Regions from separate parts of the Homo sapiens genome. Here regions 1, 2 and 4 are each reported to be linked to region 3. Evidence: microRNA targets listed by miRTarBase, many of them from high-throughput screens and not tested one by one. Region 3 holds a microRNA gene; each other region holds the end of a gene's coding sequence.

What was found. The annotated mature microRNA hsa-miR-544b reads ACCUGAGGUUGUGCAUUUCUAA and lies in region 3 at 3,555-3,576, opposite strand. An mRNA with a match to its seed (bases 2 to 7 or 8) in the 3' UTR can be bound and repressed. Matches are read on the target gene's strand: a 7mer-m8 pairs with bases 2 to 8, a 7mer-A1 pairs with bases 2 to 7 and ends in A, and an 8mer does both.
Region 1: the mRNA of TTLL1 is a reported target of hsa-miR-544b. The part of its 3' UTR that is shown has no 7-base or 8-base seed match.
Region 2: miRTarBase lists SCML2 as a target of hsa-miR-544b. Seed matches in the 3' UTR shown: 7mer-m8 at 4,141-4,147 and 7mer-m8 at 3,737-3,743.
Region 4: miRTarBase lists ABRACL as a target of hsa-miR-544b. Seed matches in the 3' UTR shown: 7mer-A1 at 1,041-1,047.

What each region holds. Positions count from the first base shown.
Region 1 is chr22:43,032,341-43,040,375 of GRCh38, reverse strand. TTLL1 (TTL family tubulin polyglutamylase complex subunit L1) reads left to right here. Exons shown (of 11, transcript NM_012263.5): 11 at 471-860. The coding sequence ends at 600. It overlaps TTLL1-AS1 (TTLL1 antisense RNA 1), which reads right to left and starts at 1,791. Exons shown (of 3, transcript NR_125362.1): 1 at 112-1,791. RefSeq lists an enhancer at 5,828-6,329.
Region 2 is chrX:18,235,648-18,243,774 of GRCh38, forward strand. SCML2 (Scm polycomb group protein like 2) reads right to left here. Exons shown (of 15, transcript NM_006089.3): 14 at 6,792-6,943; 15 at 3,666-5,732. The coding sequence ends at 5,604. Among named protein-coding and RNA genes, the nearest start is that of BEND2, 19 kb to the left of the region's middle.
Region 3 is chr3:124,727,935-124,736,061 of GRCh38, reverse strand. MIR544B (microRNA 544b) reads right to left here and starts at 3,623; the gene lies at 3,546-3,623. It overlaps UMPS (uridine monophosphate synthetase), which reads right to left and starts at 5,610. Exons shown (of 6, transcript NM_000373.4): 1 at 5,435-5,610; 2 at 816-969. The coding sequence starts at 5,590. It also overlaps the pseudogene RPS26P22. RefSeq lists enhancers at 5,531-5,940, 5,353-5,952.
Region 4 is chr6:139,042,069-139,047,068 of GRCh38, forward strand. ABRACL (ABRA C-terminal like) reads left to right here. Exons shown (of 3, transcript NM_021243.3): 3 at 651-1,234. The coding sequence ends at 835. Among named protein-coding and RNA genes, the nearest start is that of ABRACL, 16 kb to the left of the region's middle.

The sequences.
Region 1 (8,035 bases), not on the chromosome of region 3:
CTCCACTGACCAGTGCTCATGTACCACTCCCATCTGGAATGGAGTTAGTCCCCCCAGCCTGCAGGTGCCTTGTGTGAAGCGTTTCCAGCCAGGCAGTCTCACCTCACTTACCCTGGGCTGGTTCTGTGTCACCTCATGCATGTTGCCTTTGGAGTCATTGCCATATTTGACCTGGTGACCTGTATAAAATGTCAGCTTCCGAGGGGAGACCACTGTCCACAATAACAACAAGGTTGTACACATAGGCAGGCTGGCCTTGGGGAGCATTTGCTGGGCTGCGAGAGCCACCTGGCAGGCAGGTGGGCTGGAGCCAGGTGGGAGGTGGGCGGGAGCCAGCAGGAGTCGCGAGGGTGGGGCCCCCTCAGGCCGCTTCTCTGGGTGATGTCATATTTGCCACACAGCAGCCTGGTGGCCCTGCCTGTTGCCTTTGAAAGAGAGCCTGCCGTGATCCTGGCTGTTTCTGTCTCCAGGTATGATGAAGAATTGGCCCAGGGTGACGGGGCTGACCGGGAGCTGAGAAGCCGTCAGGGTCAGTCTCTGGGGCCCAGAGCAGGCCGATCGAGAGACTCGGGGAGAGCGGTCCTCACCACCTGGAAGTGAGTCCCACCTGGACCTTATCAAAACTACTCACTCCACCTGGGCCCCTGCTGAAGCCCTATTTTGAAATTTCCCTTTTGTAGAGCTTTTTTCCTTTCCTAAGCCCTGTAAATAAACGAAGGCACTTCTTTGGAAGGTTATGGAGTCTGTTTGACTAGTGCTAAAGGAAACAATTCATGCGGATGTATAAAACTCGCTCTTTTTTTTTTAATTTTTAACCTAAGCAGAATTTTCATATTAAAAACTCACTTTTTTGACAGAAAGTAACAGCTTCAAGCATGTAATTTGATGTGTCACAAGGTTTAAACATTAAAAAAACTTTACACTAAATTAAAAACAAAACAAATCTTATAGACTCGTCCTGCCACGAGAGAGGAATGTATTTAACTGACGGCTCTTTTAGTTGCGTTTCTTTTTACTTGACTGCGATTTTTTTTTTTTTTCCCGAGACAGAGTTTTGCTCTGTCGCCCAGGCTGGAGTGCACTGGCACAATCTTGGCTCACTGCAACCTCTGCCTCCTGGGTAGTATTTCTCCCACCTCAGGCTCCCAAGTAGCTGGGATTACAGGCGTGTGCCACCACACCTGGCTAATTTTTGTATTTTTAGTAGAGATGGGGTTTTGACCATGTTGGGCAGGCTGGTCTCAAACTCCTGACCTCAGGTGATCTGCCCACCTCGGCCTCCCAAAATGCTGGGATTACAGAGGTGAGCCACCACGCCCAGCTTACTTGACTGTGATTTTGAAGAAAACAGGCAACTAGAAATATTCCTCGGTAATTTATCTTTACAAAGGCCTTTGTCTAGGTGCTCCCAGGAAGACCTGTTTTCTTTTCTTTTCTTCTCTTTTCTTTTTTTTTTTCTTTTCAGACAGGATCTCGCCCTGTCACCCAGGCTGGAGTGCCGTGGTGCCATTGTGGCTCAACTTCCTGGGCTCAAGTGATCCGCTCACCTCAGCCTCCCGAGTAACTGGGACCACACAGGCACACACCACCACCCCCAGCTACTTTTTAAAGTTTTTTTTGTAGAGACAGAGTTTCACCATGTTGGCCAGGCTGTTCTCGAACTCCTGGGCTCAAGCGATACTCCTGCCTAAGCTTCCCAAAGTGTTGGGATTACAGGCATGAGCCACCACGCCTGGCTTCAAAAAGACCTGTTTCTACCACTTCGGTTTTGTGGATGAGTCTGTTGTAAATGGAACTAGATGAGCACAGACAGGTCCGGCTGTGTGCCTTTTATGACGTCAGCAGCTGGGTTTGCTACAGGGAAGCGCCGTGGGCAGCCAGGAGCTGTGGGAGGAGCGATGGCTGCGGGACAGGCTGCGCGAGCGTGGTTGTTCCCATGCAGTCTCCCGGTAGCCCGGTGACTTACAGGAGTGTATGGAGAGGACCTGAGTTGGTGGGTAGATGGACAGATGCATTTGAGTAATAACTCATGAGTTACAGTGCTGTTCTTAGGAAGGGTCTTTTTTTTTTTTTTTTTTTTTGAGGTGGAGTTTCACTCTTGACACCCAGGCTGGAGTGCAATGGCACAATCTAGGCTCACTGCAACCTCCACCTCCTGGGTTCAGGCGATTCTCATGGCTCAGCCTCCCAAAGAGGTGGGCTTACAGGCGCCTGCCACCACGCCCAACTAATTTTTGTATTTTTAGTGGAGACGGGGTTTCACCATGTTGGCCAGGCTGGTCTCGAACTCCTGACCTCAGGTGATCCTCCCGCCTCCGCCTCCCAAAGTGCTGAAATTACAGGCGTGAGCCACTGCGCCCGGCCAGGAAGGGCCTTTTACTCATGGTCGTATTAACACGTATTTGCTGAAGTTTCACTCGCTGTCTTGAGTTTATCTTTAAAGCTTGCCACCTGTTTTTGTTGCAATGCTAGTAACAGGAGTTTGTTCTCCCAAATGGCACCAAGGGTATGTCCTTCAGATAAGGGTCTTAACTGACTTGCCCAGGCTCTCTCAGTGCCCATGCATGGACGTGTGTCAAGTGTACATGCCATATTGTGTGTGTGTATATGAGTACATATATTTAATGATGTTTCACTGCCAATTAGGGAAAAATAGGTCTTTTCAACACAAATGGTACTTGGCTGGACTCCAAATAAACTACAATTGGTGGGCTTTTCAGCCATTCCTTCTTCGTGATCTTATTGGTATGTGTGTTGTGTGTGTTCCCTGGTGTTTAAGTTTTGTTTTGTTTTGTTTTGTTTTTGAGACAGAGTCTCGCTCTGTCGCCCAGCAGGCTGGAGTGCAGTGGCGCAACCTCAGCTCACTGCAATCTCTGCCTCCCGGGTTGAAGTGATTCTCGTGCCTCAGCTTCCCAAGTAGCTGGGATTACAGGTGTACACCACCATGCCCGGCTAATTTTTGTATTTTTAGTAGAGATGGGGCTTCACCATGTTGGCTAGGCTGGTCTCAAACTCCCAGCCTTAGGTGATCCGCCTGCCTCAGCCTTCCAGAGTGCTGGGAATACAGGTGTGAGCCACTGCGCCCAGCCGTGGGGTTTAGTTTTAATGTGTTTGCTGTTGATGGCGGGTGTGGGATGGAGATCCCCGAGTCAGACTTGGCCTTGTGGCCTGGCTCTGCTGTTTATTAGCTGTTTCCCAAGCCTGTCCCTGGGGTCGTTGCACCTTTGTTTCCCACTGTATAAAATGGGGAGTTCTGTGGCCGGGCGCAGTGGCTCATGCCTGTAATCCCAGCACTTTGGGAGGCCGAGGAGGGTGGATCATCTGAGGTCAGGAGTTCGAGACCAGCTTGGCCAACATGGTGAAACCTCATCTCTACTAAAAATACAAAAATTAGCCTGGAGGCTGAGGCAGGAGAATCGCTTGAACCCAGGAGGCGGAGGTTGCGGAGAGCCGAGATGGCGCCATTACACTCAAGCCTGGGCAATAAGAGCGAAACTCCGTCTCAAAAAAAAAAAGGGGGGGAGTTCTGTTTGCCTCAGAAACAACCAGTACCACCGCACAGGGACCCTGCCCGCACGCCTTGCTGGCTCTGGCGAGCCCTCTTACCTCCCAGGAGGGGGTGTCCTCTGCACAGCTGGCGGCTCCACCTCGGCTCCTACACGCAGAAGTGAAAGACACCCCGTTAACTGTTCCCAGCTCTTCCACCGGTTTTTACAACCCGGTTCTCAGTTACATTGTGTTGTTTTTGCCTCCCTCTGGGAGAAGGGTGGAGTCCCTGGTTGGGAACGTTGGCCTCTGAGGCTCCGGGGCCACGCAGTCCTAATGGAAGAGTCACACCAAGTGGTTAGTTTGCTGGTGACCCAGTTGCTAGGTGAGAGTGAGGCTCTGCTAAGTGGATTTATGTCATATAGTGACTGTCTCATTAATGATTTAGTGATGTCATGTTCTGGGCAGATGTTTCCTCTGAGCACTTCCAGGACACGGGTGGGAAGGGTGCGGTGTTGGCAGCAGGCCTCGGGAGGCTGTCGGGCCAGGAACAGCCCCATTCAGCGCTAGGCTGGGGCTAAGCAGTGAGCCCTGCTGGGAGCTGTCCGGGAGCCGTTGCTGTTTTCTTGTCAGCCCCCACACACTTGATGGGGTGGGTCCCAGGCCAGAGGGTTGCATCCTGTGGTCGTTTTCACCAAGTTTGATAGGCTTGGTTTTCCCAATATAAACCCATCCTCGACTGGGCACAGTAGCTCACGCCTGTAGTCCCAGCACTTTGGGAGGCTGAGGTGGGTGGATCACCTGAGGTCAGGAGTTTGAGACCAGCCTGGCCAACAAGGTGAAACCCCGTCTCTACTAAAAATACAAACATTAGCTGGGCTTGGTGGTTCATGCCTGTAATCCCACCTACTTGGGAGGCTGAGGCGGAAGAATCACTTGAACCCAGGAGGCGGAGGTTGCAGTGAGCCGAGATCGCACCATTGCACTCCAGCCTGGACAACTGAGCAAGACTCCATCTCAAACAAAAGAAAACCACCATCCTTCACCTCCTTTGCACACGGGCTGCTCCCCGGGTATTAGTGAGGGCCTGGTGACAACCTTCTCACTGTCTCCCTTCTCCTCCTCCGCCTCCCACCTGGGCTGCCATGGAGACCCCATCAGTCTGGACCCGCATCTGGTTGCGCTCCACCAGCTGCTAGGACTTTCCTCACAGGGGGCCATTTCCCCTCCACACAGTGGTTCTTCAGGGTGCTCCATAAAGCCTCCTATGCTTGCCACCCATTGGCCTGTTGGCTCACACTGCCACACACCATGTCCACCAGTGCCAAACACACGCAGCTCCTCTCTGAGTGCCCCCAGGGGCCAGCGCACTCTCCACCCTCCCCTCTGGAGCCATTCCCAGCTGTGCTGCGGCCGCCTGGCCCTCTCCCCGCAGCAGCCCTGCAGCCCCTGTGGTCTGGGGAGGCCAAGGTCTCCTGCAGGGCCCTGCCTGCTGGTAACGGCACAGCGACTGGGGCTGCTCAGCGACTGGGCACCCTCAGGCTGTTTGTGTGTCCCCTAATGTGAACTGTGCCCCAGTGGAGGGCCCTGGGGCACGTGAGGACCCTTTGTGAGCAGGTGGGAGCACATCCACTTTTGATTCCAGTCTCTCATTGTGGAAGACGAGGGATTTTGATCTTCACTGATTTGCCCCAGCCTGAACCATATTAGATCTCACATCCTGTGAACAATGGCGGCCTCCTGCTTTTGTCCTGAGAAGCATTCGGAGCGCTCCTCCAGTGACAGATGCAAACCCACCTTGCTTATGCTCCTGCCCGGCCGCTGGCGCTCTGTCAGCAGGAACAAGTCTAGGGGCCCATGGCGTTCCCTCAGGCCCAGGCCCACCCTGCCTGCCACTTGGCCAACATTCCCCCACAATTCCAGTTTAACTCACCTAATCTCCCCTCCCCTTCCCACCCCTCCCCTCCCCCCTCCCCTCCCCCCTTTCTTTCCTTTTTTTTTTTTTTTTTTTTTTTTTTTAGACAGAGTCTCACTCTGTTGCCCAGGCTAGTGGCACAATCTCGGCTCACAGCAACCTTTGCCTCCTGGGTTCAAGTCATTCTCATGCCTCAACCTCCCAAGAAGTAGCTGGGATTACAGGCATGCGCCACCATGCCCGGCTAGTTTTGTTTTGTTTTGTTTTGAGACGGAGTCTCACTCTGACACCCAGGCTGGAGTGCAGTGGCGTGAGCTCAGCTCACTGCAAGCTCCGCCTCCCAGGTTCATGCCATTCTCCTGCCTCAGCCTCCCGAGTAGCTGGGACTACAGGCGCCCGCCACCACGCCCGGCTAATTTTTTGTATTTTTAGTAGAGACGGGGTTTCTCTACTAAACATGTCTACATCCTGACGTGTTAGCCAGGATAGTCTTGATCTCCTGACCTTGTGATCCGCCTGCCTCAGCCTCCCAAAGTGCCGGGATTACAGGCATCAGCCACCGTGCCTGGCCTAGTTTTGTATTTTTAGTAGAGATGGGGTTTCACTATGTTGGCCAGGCTGGTCTTGAACTCCAGACCTCAAGTGATCCGCCAGCCTCCATCTCCCAAAGTGCTGGGATTACAGGCATGAGCTACCGTGCCCGGCTTCCAGCCAAATGTTTTTGAGTGATGGCATCAGTGTTCTTAGAGATGTGCCTCTCTAAGGATGACGGAGCTGGTGAGAGGCTAGAGGGAGATCTGGCAGTGCAGGCCACAATGTGAACTCAGGCGGTGCCCTAGGGACGGGAGGAGGGGAGTTGTGCACAGGGAGCCTGCACACCGGGTGGAAGGGGATCTGCAGAGACGAGCAGTTCTCAGTGGCCCAGTAGGGGGCGTGTGTTAAACGGGGTTTGAGCCCTGAATGTAGAAGGAGGTAAACTGCAAAGCTGCAGTAACAAACGTGCTTTTCAGAAGCTGTTCAGAAAGGCCACGCTACTCATGGTTATGAATAATGCTGCCTCGAGGCCATGGCTGAATAGCAAGAACGTCACCAGGCAGCTTCCCTTCCTGCATCTTGTACTGGTTAAAATGAAATCAGAACTTTTTGTTTTTTTGGGACGGAGTCTTGCTCTGTTGCCCAGGCTGGAGTGCAATGGCGTAATCTTGGTTCACTGCAACCTCCACCTCCCAGGTTCCAGTGATTCTCCTGTCTCAGCTGGGATTACAGGCGCCCGCCACCATGCCCAGCTAATTTTTGTATTTTTAGTAGAGATGGGGTTTCACCATCTTGGCCAGGCTGGTCTTGAACTCCTGACCTGGTGGTCCACCCACCTTGGCCTCCCAAAGTGCTGGGATTACAGGCGTGAGCCACCACGTCCAGCCTGATAGCTCTTTTTTTTTTGAGACAGGGTCTGGCTCTGTCATCCAGGCTGGAGCGCAGTGGTATGATCACAGCTCACTGCAGCCTTGACCTCCTGGGGTGATCCTCCCACCTCAGCCTCCCAAGCAGCTGGGATTACAGGTGCATGCTACCACACCCTGCTGATTTTTATTTATTTTATTTTATTTTGTTTTTTGAAACAGAGTCTCATTCTGTCACCCAGGCTGGAGTGCAGTGGTGTGGTCTCGGCTCACTGCAACTTCTGCCTTCTGGGTTCAGTCGATTCTCCCACCTCAGCCTCCTAAGTAGTTGAGATTACAGGCACATGCCACCACGTGCGGCTAACTTTTGTATTTTTAGTAGTGACAGGGTTTCACTATGTTGGCCAGGCTGGTCTCAAACTCCTGACCTTGTGCTCCACCTGCCTCGGCCTCCCAGGGTGCTGGGATTACAGGCATGAGCCACCGTGCCTGGCTGCTAATTTTTTATTTTTTTGTAGCGACAGGGTCTCACCATGTTACCCAGGCTGGTCTTGAACTCTTGGCCTCAAGCAATTGGCCTGCCTTGGCCTCCCAAAGTGCTGGGATTACAAACGTGAACCACTGCTCCCCTGAAGTAGTATCTCATTATGGTTTTGATTTGCATTTTTTCTGACAGCTGATGATGTTGAGTATCTTTTCATGTGCTTATTGGCCATTCGTATGCCTTCCTGGGAGAAACTGTTTTGATTTATTTATTTATTTTTTTCTTGAGACAGGGTCTTACTCCATCACCTAGGCTGGAGTGCAGTGGCACAATCACAGCTCCCTACAGCCTCAACCTCCCAGGCTCAGGCGATCCTCCCACTTCAGCCTCCTGAGCAGCTAGAACTACAGGCATGTGCCACCATGCCCAGCTAATTTTTTGTATTTTTTGTAGAGATGGGGTTTTGCCATGTTGCCCAGGCTGGTTTCAAACTCCTGGGCACGGCTGGGTGCGGTGGCTCACGCCTGTAATCCCAGCACTTTGGGAGGCCGAGGCAGATGGATCATGAAATCAAGACCATCCTGGCTAACACGGTGAAACCCCGTCTCTACTAAAAATACAAAAAATTAGCCGGGTATGGTGGCAGGCGCCTGTAGTCCCAGCTACTTGGGAGGCTGAGGCAGGAGAATGGTGTGAACCCGGGAGGCAGAGCTTGCAGTGAGCTGAGATCACGCCACTGCACTCCAGCCT
Region 2 (8,127 bases), not on the chromosome of region 3:
CTCCCTCTTTCTTCCTATAGTTTCAGTGCTTGACTGGCTGTATGTAAAACACAGAAGTGAAACCAATCAGAAAATAATCCGAAGGCCAAATGGCACCTTATGTCAGTCATTCACTGACACTTGTGGAATGGCTCTGTATGTGTTTGCTACTTAAAAACAGCCTCAATCTGATTCCCAGGATTACGATTCTATCAACAAGTAATTGATTCCTGATGGCAAGAGTCAAAACTGGTGAAACTCACTGCTCTCATGAAGAGTTCATTCTAGTGGGGAAAGACATCCAATATGCAAATAAATAAAAAAGTGAATGAATGAATGAACCGTGGCAGGAAATGTATCAGTTGCATCTCACCATATTTTTGAGCTATGGTAATGAATCCCCAAATCCACTAAAGACAAATTCACGTGGTGAATCCCCATCTCCACTAAAAATAGAAAAATTAGCCAGGTGTGGTGGTGCGCACTTGTAATCCTAGCTACTCAGGAGGCTGAGGCAGGAGAATCGCTTGAATCCAAGAGGCGGAGGTTGCAGTGAGCTGAGATCGCACAACTGCACTCCAGCCTGGGCAAGAGAGAGAGACTCTGCCTCAAAAAAAAAAATAAAAAAATAAATAATAAATAAAACCACCTGTTCAGCTTTTAAGAGCTAACATTTTATGTCTTAAGCCACCCATCTTTTCACATTAACATCTATGAAATCAGTTTGCATTTTTTTTTTTTGAGGCGGAGTCTCACTCTGTCACCTAGGCTGGAGTGCAGTGGCACAATCTCAGCTCACTGCAGCCTCTGCCTCCCGGGTTCAAGCGATTCTCCTGCCTCAGCCTTCAGAGTAGCTGAACTACAGGCGCGTGCCACCACACCCGGCTAATTTTTGTATTTTTAGTAGAGACGGGGTTTCACCATGTTGGCTAGGCTGGCCTAGAACCCCTGACCTCAAGTGACCCGCTCGCCTCGGCCTCCCAAAGTGCTGGGATTACAGGCGTGAGCCACCACGCCCAGCCCAGTTTGCATATTATAATCAATGGTGAGTGATTTAATAGGTAGCATTTTCCTTCACTATTTGGTAAACGATGCATCTTACAATCAACGGGGTCTTAGATTTGATGAAATATACTAGTTCATTTAAACTAGATAATATAAAGGCCACTTTCTGTGGGAGTTTTACTCTTCTTTCTGAACGGTGGGCCACCTCTACAGGACAGATACGCTGAAGAAGGTAGACAAGTCCAGGTCTGGTCAGGGACATATGAGCCATTCTGAATCTTCAGAATGGAAGTGGTTTAATACAGAATCAGAAGCTTATATGGCTCCTGGAAGGCAGGGGCTAAGGTGAGGGAGGAAGTTTCTAGAAACCTAGGACTGCAAGAGTCACAGGGAAGCTCCCCTGCCCCCAGTGGTCTCAGCTGCCTGCACGACTGAAGTGGGTGAGTCTCAAGGTGATATCCAGAGGCTGCTGGCAAACCCCACATCTGCCTCCTGCTGATGCTCGAAAGCCTGTCGTGTGCAGCCACCAGAAGGAAGCAGCTTCTCCTCACCTCCCTCCTCCCCAAATCAGGGCACAGGGTCTCTTGGGGCAGAATCTAAGAATCCAGGTCTACTGGCAAAGGAGTGTGGCAAGTGTCGCGTCCAGGCTTTATGCCTCTAAGGACAGGGAGGAACCAAGAAGGGCTGGGATGGTGGCAAGTACCAACAATGTTCAGCCCTTTGGAACACATCAGTGACTCCGTACATTAACTGCAGAGAAGCTTAATCTTTTTCGTCTTACATGAATATAAAAGGAAGTTGTAAGATATGTGTCCTGCTCCCAATGGACTGATTTCTGCCCCCGTGGAATATGTGCACCCACCTCGCCCCTGACATTAGTGGACTTGGGCCTCCAAGGCTAGCCAAAGCCAGGTGGAAGAGTGAGGCCAAAGGAGGAACAGGGCTTGGCAAGGCCAAAACCCTGCCCTGGCCGCCCCGTTGTCCCTGAGGAATTATTTCCACAAATGCATGTGCTTAAGTGCTTCAGTTCTATGGCAGGAGAACAGGACACACCACTACTGATACATAAGGACACGTCACTTATGGGCACTTGGCACTGACTCATATGCTCTGTCATAAGTGCCCTGATGTTCTCCTTTTCATGAACGCTGGTTTGTCTGTTATGTTCTAGGCAGCTCGAGGGGAGGAGCTAGGTCCCTTCTTTCTTAAAGATCTCCCCTCAATGCTGATAGTATCCCTAAAGGCAGAAAGGTGATCCCATAACACTAGAGTTGCCTCTGTTAGAGCAGGGGGAGTGGCCAAGCTCAATTTGAGCACGTGCTAACTATGGAGTGTCGTTCTTAAGGTTTAGTGGCATCAACCTGCTGACAAAATAGGGCAAACAGAAGAGAGGAAACAGAAGAGAGGAAAGACTGTCCGCCACGTATTCCAACGGTGGGCTCTCGTTTGCACATCCTCTCATACCTAAAGCTCTCCCACATTGCCTGGATCAGCCTCAGGAGACTTTGTGAGCAAGCCCCAGCATCCAGCTATAGCCCCAGAAATTTTAACCTACTTCATGTACTCAGCCAACTGCGAGGACAATCCCTTCTGCAGCTTGAAAAAGCAGTGCTTTTCCTCCCAATTACACTGCCACTACTCACAGTATTTACTTTTTACTTTTGAATATTACAGAAGGGCATGGTGTTTCTATGCCTACAGAGGGAGGCCTTGGTTTAAAAGTTCAGGAAATCCCACTCTAGAACATTTACTGTAAGACATTTCAACAATAAGAAATCACACAGACGAAAGACCAAAGCAAATGCTAGGTGTGCCTGGAAGGTCTTAGAGCTCAAGATGCAGAATTCTGCAGGCTACAAAGCATCAAAGGATGGAATGAGAGGCAAAGCTAGAGGAAGATCATTTCAAGTCTGGAAAATTCACAGGAAGGGTAATATGGCATGATAGTCTATAGACTAAAAGTCTACAAGCCAGATAGGAGAAAAAAGGGGGCCCCGAATCACTCAAGTCTCAGATCACTCAAATCGACACCCCCATTCCAGCCGCTGAGCATCACCCCCGGAGCCTCGGTCAGGGCCCCATTGTCTCCAGTGAATCACAGGACACGCTGCTGGGGAGCAAGAGTAGTGAGGGTTTCTGGGTTCCTCGGGTGGAGCCGCAACTCCTGGGGTGGGGGTAGGGGTTGGATAAGTGAGGCTATGCAACTGTAACCCCAGTCCTCCAAGGGCATCCCACCGGGGCAGCTGGGCCATCTGAAGGCAGAGGGCCAAGAGCAGGTGCATCCAGGAGGCGGCCTCTGGCCCCCAGTGGTAAAAGAGCAGCTGGAGTTGCCAGCCAGGCGTACAGGCTCAGATGGGATGAGATATCTCGGGGCACGGGCATTTTCTAGCACTCTCGCATCACTGATGATATCATAAATAACAAAGGCTCTGAGTACAGATACAGCTCATCGACTGAACTTCTTACAGCCCCCCTGGGGTCTCATTGAAGACCCCTGTAAGAAATCAGCCCTTGGCTCTTAGGCATCTGTTTAGCAGTAGAATCTGGGCAGGTTTTAAAACTCAAGTATTTGGACATGGAAAGCCATAAGCTTACTAGAGTGGCTCTGTTTCAGTTCCAACAAATAGACACTTTAATGTAATGCAGTTAATGATAAATAAAATCACATCTGAGGCTTTGAATGAATCGTTGCGATTAACTTTATTAATATTTTAAAATATGAAAACTGTAAAACATAGTATTTATGTAAACACCTGAGGACTGTTCAAGTGGGTACAGCATCTTCATACAAACAACTTGAAAGAAGACCAAGTTTAAGTAAGAATCTTATGACATGTAAGGAATAACATAAATGAAGCTATTCTTTAAATAGTTGCATTCATGTCTAAAGTACATTTGGTTTTCTAAAAAGAAAATGTACATTCTTGCCCCTGGTGAATATTTTATTGGCATTTACAACAAATGGCTAATACTTTTATAACTGATTCTCATAGCTTATAAACATTACATCAAAGTTACACAAAGTAATAACAATAAACATATAGCACCATTTCCTCTTCAAAGTTCTAACTTATAAAATAAAGCCCCAAACATGGCTGGGCATGGTGGCTCATGCCTGTAATCCCAGCATTTTGCAAGGCCGAGGTGGGCGGATCACCTGAGGTCAGGAGTTTGAGACCAGCCTGACCAACATGGAGAAACCCCATCTCTACAAAATTAGCTGGGCGTGGTGGTGCATTCCTGTAATCGCTGAGGCAGGAGAATTGCTTGAACCAGGGAGGCGAGGTTGCAGTGAGCCGAGATCGAGCTATTGCACTCCAGCCTGGGCAACAAGAGTGAAACTCCATCTCAAAAAAATAAAAATAAAATAAAGCCCCAAACAATAAGTCAGAACTAATATATCTTTCAAAGTGTAGCAGAATAAATGGCTCAGAACTAAGCAAATTAATTAGAAACATTGCATAGGACAGAGAACTTCCCTGTATGGAAACCAATCTACAGATTGTTTCATATCCCCTGAAGAGTAAGCTGAGAGGTACTGGTGATAGCAAACGATGGACATATATTTTTTACGAAATCAAAACATCTAACTATATACATAGTTCATCGTCACCTCTGTGGCAGTGCAAAGTGCCAGATTAAATTCAAGAAAAAAAAGATTTACTTGTGTGTAAACCTACAGGTATAAAACAATATATAAATATGGTAAAGTACCATATGAAGAATAAACACATACAATATATATCTTCAAAAATTTTGGACACAGGTATCTTCATATAGAGATGTAAGAAAAGAATGCCTAGTTAAATGTCCAAGCGTAGTGAAAATATGGAAAGTTTTAAAATAATAGGAATTTCACTGAAAAAATTTAATCTGACTCCATCCAAACAACCCTCGTAGTATAAATATCTCCTGCATAAAATGACAATTCTATCCTATAATTTAAAAAATTTATCAAAAACTGGTAAGAACACTTCATGAAAGCTTATAAGCTTGCTTTTTTCCTTTAAATATGATCAAATACAACATACAGAGAAATAATAAAAGGAAAATAATTTATATGGCTATTCCCTTTCTAGATATACTGATAGAACATGAACAGAACACCACAGAGTATCACACAAAATATCTGAGAAAAGATGATATCTACAGGTGCACCTTTAAATTCTCTAGTGAGGAAAAATTCTCATGGATTTAATTATAGAAGTTGTCAATCCCTGATATTTTCCCCTTTGGGATTTAGCTGTTTTGGTTCTAGATATAAAGGTTAACCAAAATCAAAGGTTTTTCTCTGTTAACTACATTAAGTATATTTGTAAACTGTACAATGAAAATTTAAAAAGACATAAAGAACTGCCAATTTGAATATGCCAATACTAACCTGTTAAATGCTTTTTAAAGAAGTAGACTGGGGGAGTGGCGGCTGTGTCTCCCAAAGCTGGTTGGTGACTCCAGGAAAAAAACAAAGTTGACTGAACTGTTACTACAGTTCTGCAATTCTGATAAAATATTTTTATGGGAACTGTCTACAAAACAAAAACTGCTAAGAGAAATACTTTTAAATTAAAATGTTAACAGTACACCTGAGAATTATGTCCAATCTAAACTTACACATTTTTTTAACTGTATTTTCCTTCTTTAAGCTTTTCAATGTAGTAACACAGCTTTAATGCTGGCCCCAGCTTCAGCCCCATATACTTCATCATCACATCACTCTTGAGTAGGAACAGAGCCTTCCCATCAATTTCCTACAGAGAGAAGGAAATCATAATCATTAATAATGCTTTCATATCAAATTATTTATACATAAGAACATGTAAAATACAGCAGCTGTATACTCCGGATATATATTCTCTGAATATGCTTTATTTCCTGAAAACTATTAAAAATATAATTTATACAGTGAAGCATCATTTGATAATTTATGAATTTAGTTCAAACTTTAAGAAAATTTAATCTTGTATCTTCAAAAAATGTCCCAAGTATCAAACAATCTGACTTTAAATACTGTGTGTTAAATAAAATACTAAATATATCTATGACAAAAGATCAAAAATTATGAATGGTAGAAATGAATTTCAGATGATCAATAACTTTCTGAGAAGGGCCAGGAATATGTCAATATCAATGCAAACTGTAAATGTGCTATACAGTGTTGTCATTATGTTGAAGGCTAATCAGTTAGTTGTCTGAAGCTGGTTAGATGCTAAAACTACTGATTTTCTTGCGATAGTGAAAAGGGTACCTCAGATAATAGATCACTCATTTGATTTGTTAGAAAACACTGAAAATATTACTTAATAGTCACAAGGCATCCTCCTAAAATTCTTTATTACCTTAATCAATTTATGTCATGGAAGCATATTATTTGGTATTTGTGAGTTCCTGTTTAAAAGGATGTACTTAATCTTATAAAGTTGCTGGATTCACTGGAGGAAGGCCACCCTGTAATAGCTTGTGGTCAACCCCTCCTACTCATGGTTCTGGCACTGAGCTGGGAGCAGGTCGGGGAGGATCCTTGTATCTGTCATCACAAAGGGAAGGTACACCTGAGAGTTGCAATGCTGAATCATCGTATCTTGAGAAGTTGAAGCAGTTTGTATTTTAGGCACCTGGATACTCACTTAAAGAACAGACCATTAATCTACCATTTAAGGAACTAATCTTGGGAAAAATAACCTCTCTCACATATGGAAAAATCAGTTGATAGGGTTCCCCCACCATCCACACAGCATCCAAATGAAGGGCCTGCACAGAGGTCATTCAAAGGCATTACGGCAGGAAAACCGGATCAAAAGATACATTACATGTTGCCTGAAGAGGTCGGCGAGGGGGCCTGATATCTGAGGATCTGTATGTTTCATAAACTGTATCACTTCATCCACAGACCAGGTTGAAGGGTCCTTAGAGAAGCCTTGTTTCAGGACACTGGGATCAGGTACAGCTATATAACTTGGAGCTTCAATGGGGGGGAAAAAAGACAAATCATACTTGACCTGATCATTATCCTGAAAGAAGAGATGTTAGGTAGGGAATAATGGTCTCATTCCTGGAACCTTTTGTTAAGTTCCCCAACAAGGTCTCAAGACTCCAACTGTGAAAGCTTATACAAAAATGATGTGAGGATGGCTACATAAGAGCATCCCATCTGACCTCCCCCAAACAACAAAAGCAGGTTCAGACGTTACCTTAAAGCTTCAAAGATCACAAAACAGACTAAGCAATCCAAGCCTCTTTGGCCACAGACAAATACAGCAAAAGATCTGTTACTCGGGTAAAATTAGGTTAATCTAATCTAACCTATGACTTCTCTCTTACTTTAAGTCTTTCAAGGAATTTCAATCTCTCTCTATCTGTCTAGACTAGGTATATTTTACTAGCTAAATCCGATGGAAATTCCCCAAATTTACAGTTAGTTTTTGTTTTGTTTTGTTGTTGTTGTTGTTGTTTTGGTTTTTTTGAGACAGGGTCTCGCTCTGTTACCCAGGCTGGAGTGCAGTGGCACAATCATGGCTCACTGCAGCGCTGACCTCCCAGGCTCAAGTGATCCTCCCACCTTGCCTCCCAAGTAGCTGGGACTACTGACACATGCCACCACTTGCAGCTAATCTTTATATTTTTTGTAGAGACAGGATTTATCCATGTTGCCCAGGCTGGTCTCAAACTCCTGGACTCAAGCAATCTGCCCACCTCAGGCCCCCAAAGTGCTGGAATTACAGGCATGAGCCACCATACCTGGCTAAATTTAGTTTTCTAATTGCTTAAATGTGTTCACTTTAATCAAAGAATTTCAATAATCCCATTATTTTTGATAAACAAATTAGTCCTTTTACCAAATCTCTCTGATGTATCCAATAAGAATATTTTTAGCATCACTTTACTCTTTAGATTCCTGTCTCTCATGGCTTAAATGCTTATCTGAATTTTGAAGAAGACAAGATTATTTTCTGCTAAGCTAGGTCAGAAATAACTTTAACATTTAATTTAACTCCTTTATCATGTTTAATTGCATAGTAATAGATATTTTGGTTGAAGGTTTATACATTAAAAAAATACATAACTGAGACATGAAACAATTTAAGTGCTCATACCTCAAATGGTCTTAGCTGTGCTCTTTACTAAGTTGTGATAAAATCTGTGTCC
Region 3 (8,127 bases):
TATCCTCCCACCTTGCCCTCCCAAAGTGCTGGGATTACAAGTGTGAGCCACTGTGCCTGGCCAATTTTCAGGGTTTTTTTTGTTTGAAATAGGGTCTCACTTTGTCGCCCAGGCTGGAGTGCAGTGGCGCAATCTCAGCTCATTGCAACCTCCACCTCCTGGGTTCAAGCGCATCTCCTGCCTCAGCCTCTCCAGTAGCTGGGACTACAGGTGCATACCACCACGCCCAGCTAATTTTTGTATTTTTAGTAGAGACGGAGTTTTACCACGTTGGTCAGGCTGGTCTTGAACTCCTGACCTCAAGTGATCCGCCTACCTCGGCCTCCAAAAGTGCTGGGATTACAGGCGTGAGCCATGGTGCCTGGACAAATTTTCGGGTTTTAAAGCAAGTCACCTGATAATCTATTGCCATGAACCCACAAAAATATCTCTCTGAGGTGTTTACACTGCTTTATGAGAGTAATTTTATCCATGGATTACTTTTCATGAAGTTTAAATACAAACATACTGGGAAAGTATGTGCTGTTACAACATTTTGCTGATGAGGGAAGGGCTGGTAAAAAAAAAAAATGTTGGAGTTTCATAGATACAGTACCAAAAAAAGCACTTTTCATTTCCTAATCAATACAAAGCATTTCACCCCAAGTCTAAAAAAAGGAAGGTGACTTATAGTAACAATTATAAATTCTACAAGCAGTAACAACTTAAAGAACTCAAGATGACTGGTAAAACATTAGTGCACAGAAGCGGAAAAATTCTAAGAGTATGATGTTACAGATTAATTAACTTCATGCTTTATGTTACTTTTATTTTACCATAATCCTTTGTTTCTTTCCTTCTAATAAGCATTGGAATTTGATTGGTTGAACAGATAACTGTAGCCAATGGCAAAGCTGTATAAGGCACTCCACACACGGTGTCAAAACTGATGCCTGCATTTTGGGCAGTTTGGAATAAAATATCTGCAACCTGTAAGAAAATGAACACATAAACAATGTTTTATTGTAACTATTTTATTTTATTTTATATTTTTTATTTTTTGAGATGGAGTCTCGCCCTGTTGCCCAGGCTGGAATGCAGTGGTGCGATCTCGGCTCACTGCAACCTCTGCCTCCCAGGTTCAAGTGATTCTCCTGCCCCAGCCTCCCAAGGAGCTGAGATTACAGGCGCGCACCACTACACCCAGCTAATTTTTTTGTATTTTTAGTAGAGATGGGGTTTCACTATGTTGGTCAGGCTGGCCTCAAACTCTTGGCCTTGTGATCCACCTGCCTCGGCCTCCCAAAGTGCTGGGATTACAGGCGTGAGCCACTGCGCCCAGCCTATTGTAACTATTTTAAATAGTGTATAAACATGTAACAACGTAACAGAAAAGACAGTAATAAACTAGTGGGGGTAAGTCTCAAACTTGATTGGAGAAAAAAAAACAAATGCCTTTTTATTACCCTCTCCATAAACCCAGTACACAAATATAAATCTAAAAACACAAGAATGAATCTATTCAACCAGACTCAGAATCTGTTCTGAAGGCAACCTGAGATGTGCTGGGGAAGCTCATGATGTTGACCCCAAAGACTAAGGACGATCCCGACTTCCTGGTTTCCTCAGTAACCCATTAGGCTGAGTATCTAAACCTATCATCTTTTAGTTATATATCCTGAAAGAAGCCTTCAATTAGGAAGTTTCATAAATACAGACTATTGTGTGAATTGCTATTTTATAATCTCCTTTTCCACATAAATCATCATATTTTAATGTTAGGATACATATTCCCACCCAAGACCACCTCATTTTTTTTTTAAAAAAGCAAACAGTCACTGAGTTGCTTTGTGAACTAGATCATAGGTTTACACCAGTACTTCTAAAGAGTAAAAAAACAAACAAAAAAAAACTATGACTATTTTAAGTTGCAGAGAATGTAATTTCTAGTACTAAAAATATTAACATATTATCTTAGAACTGTTTTATCACTCTTTTTAAGGAATAAACTTGGAATACAAATGCTAGTGACTGGATATCCACCATCTCCATTTAAAAAAACAAAACGTGAAATTGCTGGACTATGAAAAGTTTAAAATTTTTTACATCTTTTTCCAACTCATATTTTCACTCCACTGTGTCCACAGAATTTTATTCTAAAGTAATATATGATTATACTTGAAAAGCTTTTACTGATCCCTCTGTCATACTTGTCTATATGTATGTAAACTGAAATTTAAAATGGTAATTAAAAAAAAATTTCCCATGACCATAAGTCTCTAGATGTCAAGAATTCTTCTGTAGCTCTCTCAGGTCCTTACTTCCAAGATGACAAAGAAAAGAAAGGAACAATGATCGTGCCAAAAAGGGCTGTGGCCAGTAGTGGCACATACTATGTCCGATGCATGCCCAAGGAAAAGACCATTAAGAAGCTCGTCGTGCAAAACATAGTAGAGGCCGCAGCAGTCAGGGACATTACTGCAGTGAGCAACTTTGCCTCCTATGTTCTTCCCAAGCTGTATGCGAAGCTACATTAAGGTGTGAGTTGTGCCATTCACAGCAAGGCAGTCAGTAATCCATCTTGTGAATCCCACAAGGACCAAATACCCCAATCTGATTTAAACCTGTGGGTGCTGCCTCATGACCCTCACCAAAGCCCATGTAAGGAGCTGAATCCTTAAGGACTGAAGAGAAACTATTCTCTTGAGGAAAAGAAAATGGAAATTGTACTTTTTAAAGAAGAGAATTCTTCTGTATATCATTAAATTATAACAAGCATATGATTAATTCAAACATGATTTGCAAATTTTGACAGAGAGATAAAAACAGATTTGGAAAATGCATTTTTAGTGAGTTAATGCTACCTTTCCTCTCCAATTACTTTATGTACACTAATGTGTATATAGTACTATAGTCAAATATCACTTATTATCACTTATTAAGGGAAGTTAGAGTTTAGCATAAATTATATTGCTTTTTGGGGTGTAAATACTGAGAAATTCTATTCGCATAAGATGTGAAAAGAAGTTTTGTTATACCCAAGTCTCTCCATGTTTTGAACTCCTCCCCAGTTAATCACCAAAATACACACACACACACACACACACACACACACCATGATCTAGTTATCAAAAAACTTTTTCTGTCATTTATCAGCTGGCTTATTAAAATAAATCAATTTTTCCCTAGAAAATCCTTAGTAATTCTCCACATTGCTAAGATACACCATAGCAAGATTCTGGATGGTGAGAAGTTAATGGTCCAAAGTACCGCAACCTTAATAGTCCAACCTATCTTCAATACTTTTTACAATAACCACACAAAGTGGTCCCTAGTGAACATAAACCCTTAAGTGGGCTGAGGAAACTTATATGTCTTCTTGATAGAACTTTCTGCAATGATGGAAATGTTCTCTATCTTTGCAGTCCAATATGATAGCCACTGGCCATATATGACTATTTAAACTTAAAAATTCATAATGCTCAATAGTAACACGTGGCTAGTAGCAAACTGTATTGGAAAGCATATTTACGGCCCTCTACTCAGTGTGGTCTGCAGTTTCAGCTGGCACTTTGTTAGAAATGCACAACCTCAGGTCTAGTCTCAGAGCTACAGAAATGGATTCTGCATTTTAACAAAATTCCCAGGTAATTCATATATACTCAAAGTTGAGAAGCACTGTATTAGAAACCTCTAATTTGTACAAAAATTTTCCTTATATTGACTAAAAACCTGCTTTCCCAATATGTCCACCTTCTAGTCTTAATTATTGCTTCTGGCCGCACAGTGCAAAATTCAACTCCCCTTTCCAAACAGCCCTTCCAAGTGTGGACCTAACAGGAAGAGGCTGAGGCAAAATTAATATGAGTAGTTGCCCTGACTATAGGCTTCGATTACAGTAGTTACAAGTGGATTTTTAAAGCAAAAGAAGGGGCAGTTCCTATATTCACCAAGAATTTGCATTGAAATAACAGGAGGTAGCCCGGGGGTGGCACCAGGCATTTGTAGTCCCAGCTACTTGGGAAGCCGCCAAGGCAAGAGGATCTTTTGAGGCCAGGAGTTTGAGACGAGCCTGGGCAGTATGGTGAGACCTCCTCTCTACAAAAAAAAAAAATTTTTAATTTGGTGGGCATGATGGCACATGCCTGTAGTTCCAGCTACTCAGAGGTTGAGGTAAGAGGATCTCTTTTTTTTTTTTTTTTCTGAGACAGTCTCCCTCTGTTGCCCAGGCTGGAGTGCAGTGGCTCAATTTCGGCTAACTGCAACCTCCTGATTCTTCTGCCTCAGCCTCCTGAGTAGCTGGGATTACAGGTGTGCACCACCATGCCCAGCTAATTTTTGCATTTTCAGTAGAGACAGGGTTTCACCATGTTGGCCAGGCTGGTCTCGAACTCCAGACCTTAAGTGATCCACCCGCCTCAGCCTCCCAAAGAAAGCCTCCCAAAGTTGGGACTACAGGCATGAGCCCCTGTGCTCACCCGAGGCAAGAAGATCTCTTAAGCCCAGGAGTTCCAGGCTGCAGTGAGCTATGATCACAGAGCTGCACTCCAGCCTGGGTGACGTAAGAGAGATCCCATCTAAAAAATAAATAAATAAAATAATAACACAAGCGATTGATTAGCTATACATTGTTCTTTGTATCACACATTCCAGGTACATTAAGATAATGGGAGAGGCAGCTAGTCAGGGACAAAATTCCTTTAAATAATTGTCCCGGGGCTGCATAGGGGAGTATGGTTGAAGTCTCTCTGGGCTCTGATAAATTTTGTATACATCACAGAGTTCTGGTTGTTCTATTTTCCTTTTCTCACCAGTAATTTCCCAGCTACTGAATTCTCTGCCTACCCACGTTTTCCCGGTCTATTTGTTTGTTTTTTGAGGGCAGGGTCTCACTTGTCGCCCAGGCTGGAGTGCAGTGGCGCAATGACAGCTCATTGCAGCCTTGACCTCCCAGGCTCAGGTGATCCTCCCACCTCAGCGTCCCAGGCGTGCGCCACCACACCCAGCTAATTTTTTGTAGAGACGGGGTCTCGTCATGTTGCCCAGGCTGGTCTCGAACTCCTGGGGCTCAGGTGATCTGCCCACTTAGGCATCCCAAAGTGCTGGTATTACTCTCATGAGGCACCACGCCCGGCCGCAAGTCTAATTTTCTTAAAGAGTTAAATATACAGAATTCATTCAAGTGTGCTTCAGTGCCAGAAAGCGTTCCAAACTGGGTTTCCCGACTTTTGCAAAACACGTGTCTAAGCGTGTGGGTGAAAGAACAGACGACTCTCGAGGAGCCCAACCCCTGGCCTCTGTGCTTCTCATGCTTACTCCCCAAACCAAGAGTAGGGTCGGTCTGCCTGCTTGGCTCTTTTGCTCTCACTCACGGCCCAACTCCTGTCACCCTCTTCCATTTCCTTGTCCTCCTTCCCGCCACCAAGCCCTGTCCTTTCCCTTCCTAGGCCAGCACCTGACTCAGAAGACGCGGTCGAGACACGATGCCCCGCAGATCGATGTAGATGGGGGAGGAAAGCCCGCTCTTCAGCACGAAGTCCCCAAACTTGAAAGCCTGCACGTCGTACAGACCCGTCACCAATGGCCCCAAAGCTGCACGAGCGACCGCCATTGTCGCGCGCTGCCTGTTTGCTTCAAATTCCCAGGCGCCCCGGGCCTCCGGCGCCCCGATGACGTCACCCGCGAAGTCCCGCCTCTTCCGCCTGCCTCGTCTGCAGCTTTCCCGGCTTGCTGCACCCGTGGGTTTCCCCGGGCTCAAGGGTCAGGTGGATGGTAGCGAACCTAGCGCCAGTTTGTGCTTCTCCTGGTTTCTTCTGGATGGGGTCGCTGGGGTTCAAAGCCCAGAACAGCTAGATTGACTGTAGGATCATGAAGTCCCACCTTTCATGAGAGTTTGCATAAATCCTGTCCATTTTTTAATAGCCAATGCCTTCTCGACTAGTTCTCTTAATTATCTCTACTCCTTGGCCTAACATGTTATATTTGCTAGTTATTAGCCAAGATTTACCCCCCATGTTTCTCCAAATAGAATATAAGTTATCAAAGACAGGGACCTTTACTCAATTCTTTTATTAACTTCATAGCATCTAGTACGTGACAGTTCCATAGCAGTTTGCACATAGGAATATATAGCACTTAGATCATTACAGTATTCATTACCTCTTTTGTCTGTACTCTGCTTCCTGGAGGAGTACTTTTTTATTTCCTTTGGCGTACCTCAAATGCTTAGGTAATAGGTGTAGAAAAGGTAAGGGAGGGAAGGAGGAGAGTTAGAAGACGGTTAATTGATTGGTATCAGGGTTATCCAGGAGGATAATATTGCTAGACAATCTGAAAATCCAAACATATTTGGTCTTTACAAATAAATCCCTTAAAGAAATAATCAATAAATAATCTGTACAAATAAATCCCTTCTCCATTGTGTATATAAGGCAATACTTTATTCTAGCTTAAGGAAAATAACCCTTAAATTCACATAAAGAATGAAACCTTGTCATTTGCAGCAAGGTGGATGAACCTGAAGGACATTATGTTAGTGAAACAAGCCAGGAACAGGAAGATAAATACCAAATGTTCTCGCTCATATGCAGAAGCTAAAAAAGTTGATCTCATGGAGCTAGAGAATAAAATAGTAATCACTAGAGGCTGGGAAGGGTAGGGGGTGGTTAAAGGACACAAATTACAGCTAGATAGGAGGAATAAGTCCTAGTGTTCCATTGCACTGTAGGGTGACTGTAGTCAATAATAATTTACTATATATTTTAAAATAGCTAGAAGAGGGGCGTTTGAATGTTCCCAACACAAAGAAAGGATAAATATTTAAGGTGAGGAATATATGAATTACTCTGATTTGATCACTGTACATTGTGTGTATTGAAATAGCACTATGTACCCAATAAATGTGTACGATATCATGTGTCAACTATAACAAATACTTTTTTAAAAAAGAGGAACAGATAAGGCATAGCTGTATAGTGCACTACAAAGAACATGAAGTTTCAAACCAAAACATTTGGATTTTAGTCCCATTCTACTTACTGGCTGAGTGATCTTTGGCAATGCATTTTGAGCTATATGAGTCTCAATTTTCTCAAAAATAGAATGAAGAAGCCGGGCGCGGTGGCTCACGCCTGTAATCCCAGCACTTTGGGAGGCTGAGGCGGGCGGATCACGAGGTCAGGAGATCAAGACCATCTTGGCTAACATGGTGAAACCCCGTCTCTACTAAAAATACAAAAAAATTAGCTGGGCATGGTGGTAGGCGCCTGTAGTCCCAGCTACTCGGGAGGCTGAGGCAGGAGAATGGTGTGAACCCGGGAGGCAAAGCTTGCAGTGAGCCGAGATCGCATCACTGCACTCCAGGCTGGGCGAAAGAGCCAGACTGCGCTCAAAAAAAAAAAAAAAGAATGAAGATAATAATATTAACTTTCTCCAAAAATCACTATGAAGATTCAATAAGATAGTTCACTCAAAAACACTTGATAAAAAGTTGGTAGAGCTGAGTGTGGTGGCTCATGCCTGTAATCCCAGTACTTTGGGAGGCCGAGGGAAGTGGATCACCTGAGGTTGAGAGTTCGAGACCAGCCCAGTCAACATGATGAAACCCCGTCTCTACCAAAAAATACAAAAATTAGCCGGGCATAGTAGCACATGCCTATAGTCCCAGCTACTTGGGAGGCTGAGGCAGGAGAATTGCTTGAACCCCGAGGGGGTGGAGGTTGCAGTGAGCCAAGATCATGCCACTACACTCCAGCCTGGGCAACAGAGACTCTGTCTCAACAACAACAAACAAACAAACAAACAACAACAACAACAAAAAAAAAAGCAGAGGAACATAGATTGTACCAATTCATTTTGTGTTCTCCATTTCATTTACTTAGGCTGGGTAAAGGATCTTGGCTTTAACCAATATTTAGTCTTACTATTTTAGGTATTTACCCTAAAGAGTTTCCATGAATGTAAAATTTCATGCAGTAGTTCAATCTGAGCCTTTTCATGGACCTAGCTCTATATTGCTTACTGAATCCCTTCTGTATTCTACTCTGATATCTATTTTAGACTGAGCTTGTGGGGTTCTGATTATCATTTGTATTAGGGCTTTTGCTAATATTCCATAACTATATTGGTGATTCCTCTGAACCACTCCCC
Region 4 (5,000 bases), not on the chromosome of region 3:
GGAGGTGTCTCCCAGATTACCCTTGCCTCCAGGTTTTCAGGTTATTGATGTTTAACAACAGATCTACTTTTGGTCTATCTTAACTTTCAATGTATATGTTAAAAACTGGCCTCCAAATAAGATAATCTAGGGCTCATATGAAATACAGATTTCTGAGTCTACTACTGGGAATTCAGATTCAGTGGTCCTGATGAATGGCTGATGATTATACATTTTTAAGGAGCCCCCCACTCCCACCCTGGGGATTCCGAGTGTTCAGAACACACTTAGAGAAACACTGCTCTTGATCCTGGTTTTCTCTTTCATTTGTAGTGTTTATTGATTCAAAAACTCACGTAACAATTAACAAATAAAAATAGAGGGAGAGAAATTCATCTGCAGTATTAGCACTGTAGCACATTCAACTTTTGTAAATGTTGGTTCTCAGTCTTTGTCTGGATAATCCTAAGGCCAAGAGGCATATAGCATGTATTTATTCCATTACTTTTTGGATCAGGGAAGAGAATATGTTGAATTTATGACTGTTAAGTGTTAAATTGCAACCTTGGATAGCCCATAGTTATAAATTTATTAAAGATTTTGTAAGTCTTCCATACTTGAGGGTATGAAACAGACTTTGCATTTGCTAACAATGTATTTTCTCAAACTAGATGCTGATGGAAAGTTAAGCGTGAAATTTGGGGTCCTCTTCCGTGATGATAAATGTGCCAACCTCTTTGAAGCATTGGTAGGAACTCTTAAAGCTGCAAAACGAAGGAAGATTGTAACATATCCAGGAGAGCTGCTTCTGCAAGGTGTTCATGATGATGTTGACATTATATTACTGCAAGATTAATGTGGTTTACATATCTTTATGTACTGCCATTTTTTGTTTCTGGTAAACTGGAATATAAAGTGAAAGAACAAACATTTGAACATACTTAATGTATTTTTATAGAACTTTGTAAACGAAAGGAGATTCATGTTTTAGAAGTCTGTCCTTTTTTATATCTTGAAAGAAAATCTATGTATGATGCTATAAAATAAATCCTATTATTTTTCTCAGGAATCTGGTTAGGAATTGCAGGCAATGAGATTTTTTGCGGGGCAGGGATGGGAATGTTTGTTCATAAATAATTAGACATTTTCTATAGATATTTGACATTCTGCGAAAGCAACAAGCAAACTGAAGACCAACTCCTATGAGAAATATTATGATGTTTATGTAATAAAGACATGTAACTGTCTTAAATTTGCCTTATTTTGTCATTTAAGTATTTGTGTGCTTCTCAGAATTGAGTTTTTGCATCAAGATTAGGTAACTGCAGTAAAAGTTGTGTTACTCTGAAACAAATTCTCTCAAAACTACCAAATTTAAGTAATAGGAAGGGCTGGGCACGGTGGCTCACACCTGTAATTCCAGCACTTTGGGAGGCTGAGGCGGGCAGATCACCTGAGGTTGGGGGTTCGAGACAGCCTGGCCAACATGGTGAAACCCCATCTCTACTAAAAATACAAAAATTAGCTGGGCGTGATGGCACACATCTGTAATACCCACTACTCTGGAGGCTGAGGCACAAGGATCACCTGAACCCAGGAGGTGGAGGTTGCAGTGAGCTGAGGTCGCCCCACGGCACTCCAGCCTGGGCGACAGAGCGAGACTTGATCTCACAAAAAAAAAAAAAAAAAAAAAAGAGGAATGGTTAGTGTTATGGTTAGACCCTATACAAAATATTTATTTTGAGGCTGATTGTGTGCTTATTGCTGAGTTTGGGGACATGCCAAAAAATCTAACCTAAAAACTTCACATTCTAGTTGGGTTACACCCATCTGAAACAATATGGGATAATCTCTGATTGCATGTTACAGAATTTAACATGACTTGGAATGCCAAGGAGAATAAAAGCAGTGAAAGCCACAATGGCCAGGGGAGATATCCTGGAGGGGGCAGAACTTGCATGGAGGAATGATTGCAGCTGATTATCTCGAGGGAAAAAAAGATGGGATGATGAGGGTGATGACTGAAGGAAAGGCAGAAGGATACAAATTGGCAAGGCATGATCTCGTGAAAGGCAGGATATGAGGCCGACCAGAATGCTGGGGAGAGAGGTCGTTCATTGGACAATGAAAGTGGGACCTGGGAAATCAGGAAGAGGAATATGAACAGAAACTGGAGCCAGGACATTCCATGATGACAGTGATGTTTAGTGCAGATGGCCCTCACACTAGTGATTCAGGTGGATTGTAGAGAGTGAAGAAGTGGTCAGACAAGCCAGCTGAAATGTTGCTCAGGAATCTCATGGGGGTGACCATAACGCAAAGGCGGGGGAAGAATGAACTCCAAGCATGTTTTTAAAATCAAAGCCCTCTCATCTGTACTCTTTCTGCTGTGACAGGACCCCAATTCAAAGATCAAACATTAGAATTCACTGGCACTTGACGGTTATTGCTAACATTTATTGAGCATTTACAATGCCAATTCTCATATAACCCTGTGAGGTAGGTACTAATAGTACCTTCCATTTTATAGATGAGGTAAGTGAGGCACAGAAAGGTTAAGTAGCTTGTCCAAGTTCACCTAGGTAGAAAGTTGTAGAGTCTGAATTTTGAAATTGGACTCATCTAACTGGCAATTCCAGGGATGGCGTAGACTTTGAGCGTGGCTGGCTCCAGGGACTAAACAATGTCAAAACTCTCTGCCTTTCCATATTGGCTCTCATGCATTCTCTGGTTTGATCTCTTTCTACTGTAAATAGACTCCCTGCAGATAGCTGGGAAGATGCTGCTAGTAGTTGCAAATTCACTTATTTCTAGATTAGCAATTCTAGTAGAGGGAGCATTTATTATAATATCTAATTATGAATTCCAAGAAGGAAATTCTGATTGCTTCCACTGCAGTATAAACCTACCCCTTTGACCAATGGCATTTACCAAGGAGATGAGACACCATGAACTGACAGGCCACAGGTAACATGCTGGTTTCTCAGTGGGGATGGGGTGAGTTATTGTGCTTCACAACCTCATTTCAAATAAGAAAAGGGTAGTTTTCCAAAGGAAACGATGTTGGCTACATGGGAACGACATGGGTTCACTGTAGAAATAAGAGACCTTTTGAAGAATGAATCTTTACAATTATGTGGCAAAAAATGAAAAGGTGAATGAGAAGCGATGGTCAAAAGCTACCATCATATATGCCCTCAGTGACTGAGAGAATGATGAACTAATTAACAGAGGTGGGAAAATTGGATGGAGAAGGAGGGCTAGTTTCAGGGAGTTTGATCTGGGCATGGTAAACTTGAGGTACTTAAAGTAGAAATGTGTAGTAAGTAGGTGAGGATTTTCTTCTAGAACCCAGGCTAAGTAAAGGCATAGGAGTGTAGACAGAGACTTGGGAATTACGGTTCATGGTTGATTTTCACCTTAATTTTGATTTGTATAGATAATTCTACTTCTGACTCTCATTAGCATTAAATTGAAATTTTAATTATCAGGCACTTAGAAAACACAAAAGACAAACAATCTACAGGCTTTGTAAAAGTCTAGGCTGAGAAATTGAAGCAACCTTTAGATGGAAGCAATGTAGGAAGCCCAAAGACATCTAACAGAATTTTATGAGGCAGCTGACCTTGTGTAATCAAAAAGAATCTTAAAAAATCTATAGAAGTTGAAATTGTTAATCTGTCATGATTTGTTTAATGTCTTCTTGGCGAGCATCAAATGAAGTTTAGTTTTAACCCTTGATGATTTAACATTTAATGAACATCTTCCAGAAAAGGTATATTCATGTGATTGTTCAGTTATTGTAAGAAAACTGACAGAATATCATTTCTATCTACCATTGATATCCACGATACAGTTTTATGTATTTTCCTTTAGATTCAAGATGGTTAGTTCTTTGTATCAACTTCACATATACATAGTTGTTTTATTGGATCATGGTCTTAAAATTTTAAATCATAGATTTGATTTTTTTGAGCTATATTCACAGTGAAAATACTCTTTCTTGGCCATAAGCTGCATTGCAGTTAATTATCTCAGTAATAAGTGCCATTGGCTACAGTTGGCTGGGAATTAGAGATTATCAACAGTTGTATACCAACATTCCTTTATTCACGCAATGAAAATATGGAACCTCTACTTTGTTCAAGTCACTGTTCTAGGCGTTAGGAAGGACTAAAGCAAAGCAAAATAAGAATAAACAAAATTCTATTCTAGTCCTCAAAAAACCCCAATTAGTACTATATATTATTAATAAACAGTATAAAAGAAGCTTTGGGTAAATGATATAGAGATATGGGTGCAAAGATAAAGAATCATTCCTGAGGGGACCTGGAGGGCTTTCATGGATAAAGTGACATTTCCTGGGGCTTTAAAGCAATAGAATAATAGGGTAGGACTTTAGGGGTAGAGTCACTACTGCATACAAAGTCAGAGAAAGGCAAGTAATTTGAGGTACAGAAGGAAAGTAGTGTAACAACAGTTGAGGCCAGAAAGGAAGGTTGGGAACATTATTTTGAACCTTTAGGACAGAAGAAACAATTCTAAGTGTATGTCTTAATAATGGTGAGTTACAAAGAACTGTAAAAAAACTTACATAAAATATTTGATAAGTACCACTAATTATAAAGAAACTTTAATTTTTAAGTTCTGTAACATTGCTATTTTGTGTATTGAGATTAAATAAGACAATCTATAAGTATAGCTTATCATCTTCATAGTGAATGACTGTTCATTGAAAACTGATTAAAGTTACCACGTTTGCAGTCTTGAATTTTCTTAAGTTTCTGTCATAGAAAGTCCAAGCATACCCTAGTGTCCTGGAGTTACAATTTAAAAATAAGTTACTGGCTGAGTACAGTGGTTCACACTTATCCCAGCACTTTGGGAGGCCAAGGCAGGAGGATCACTTGAGTGCTGGATTTCCAGACCATAACAAGACCCCATCTCTACAAAAAAATTTAAAAAATTAACTGGTCGTGGTGGCGTGACCCACTACAGTCTCCACTACTTGGGAGGCTTTC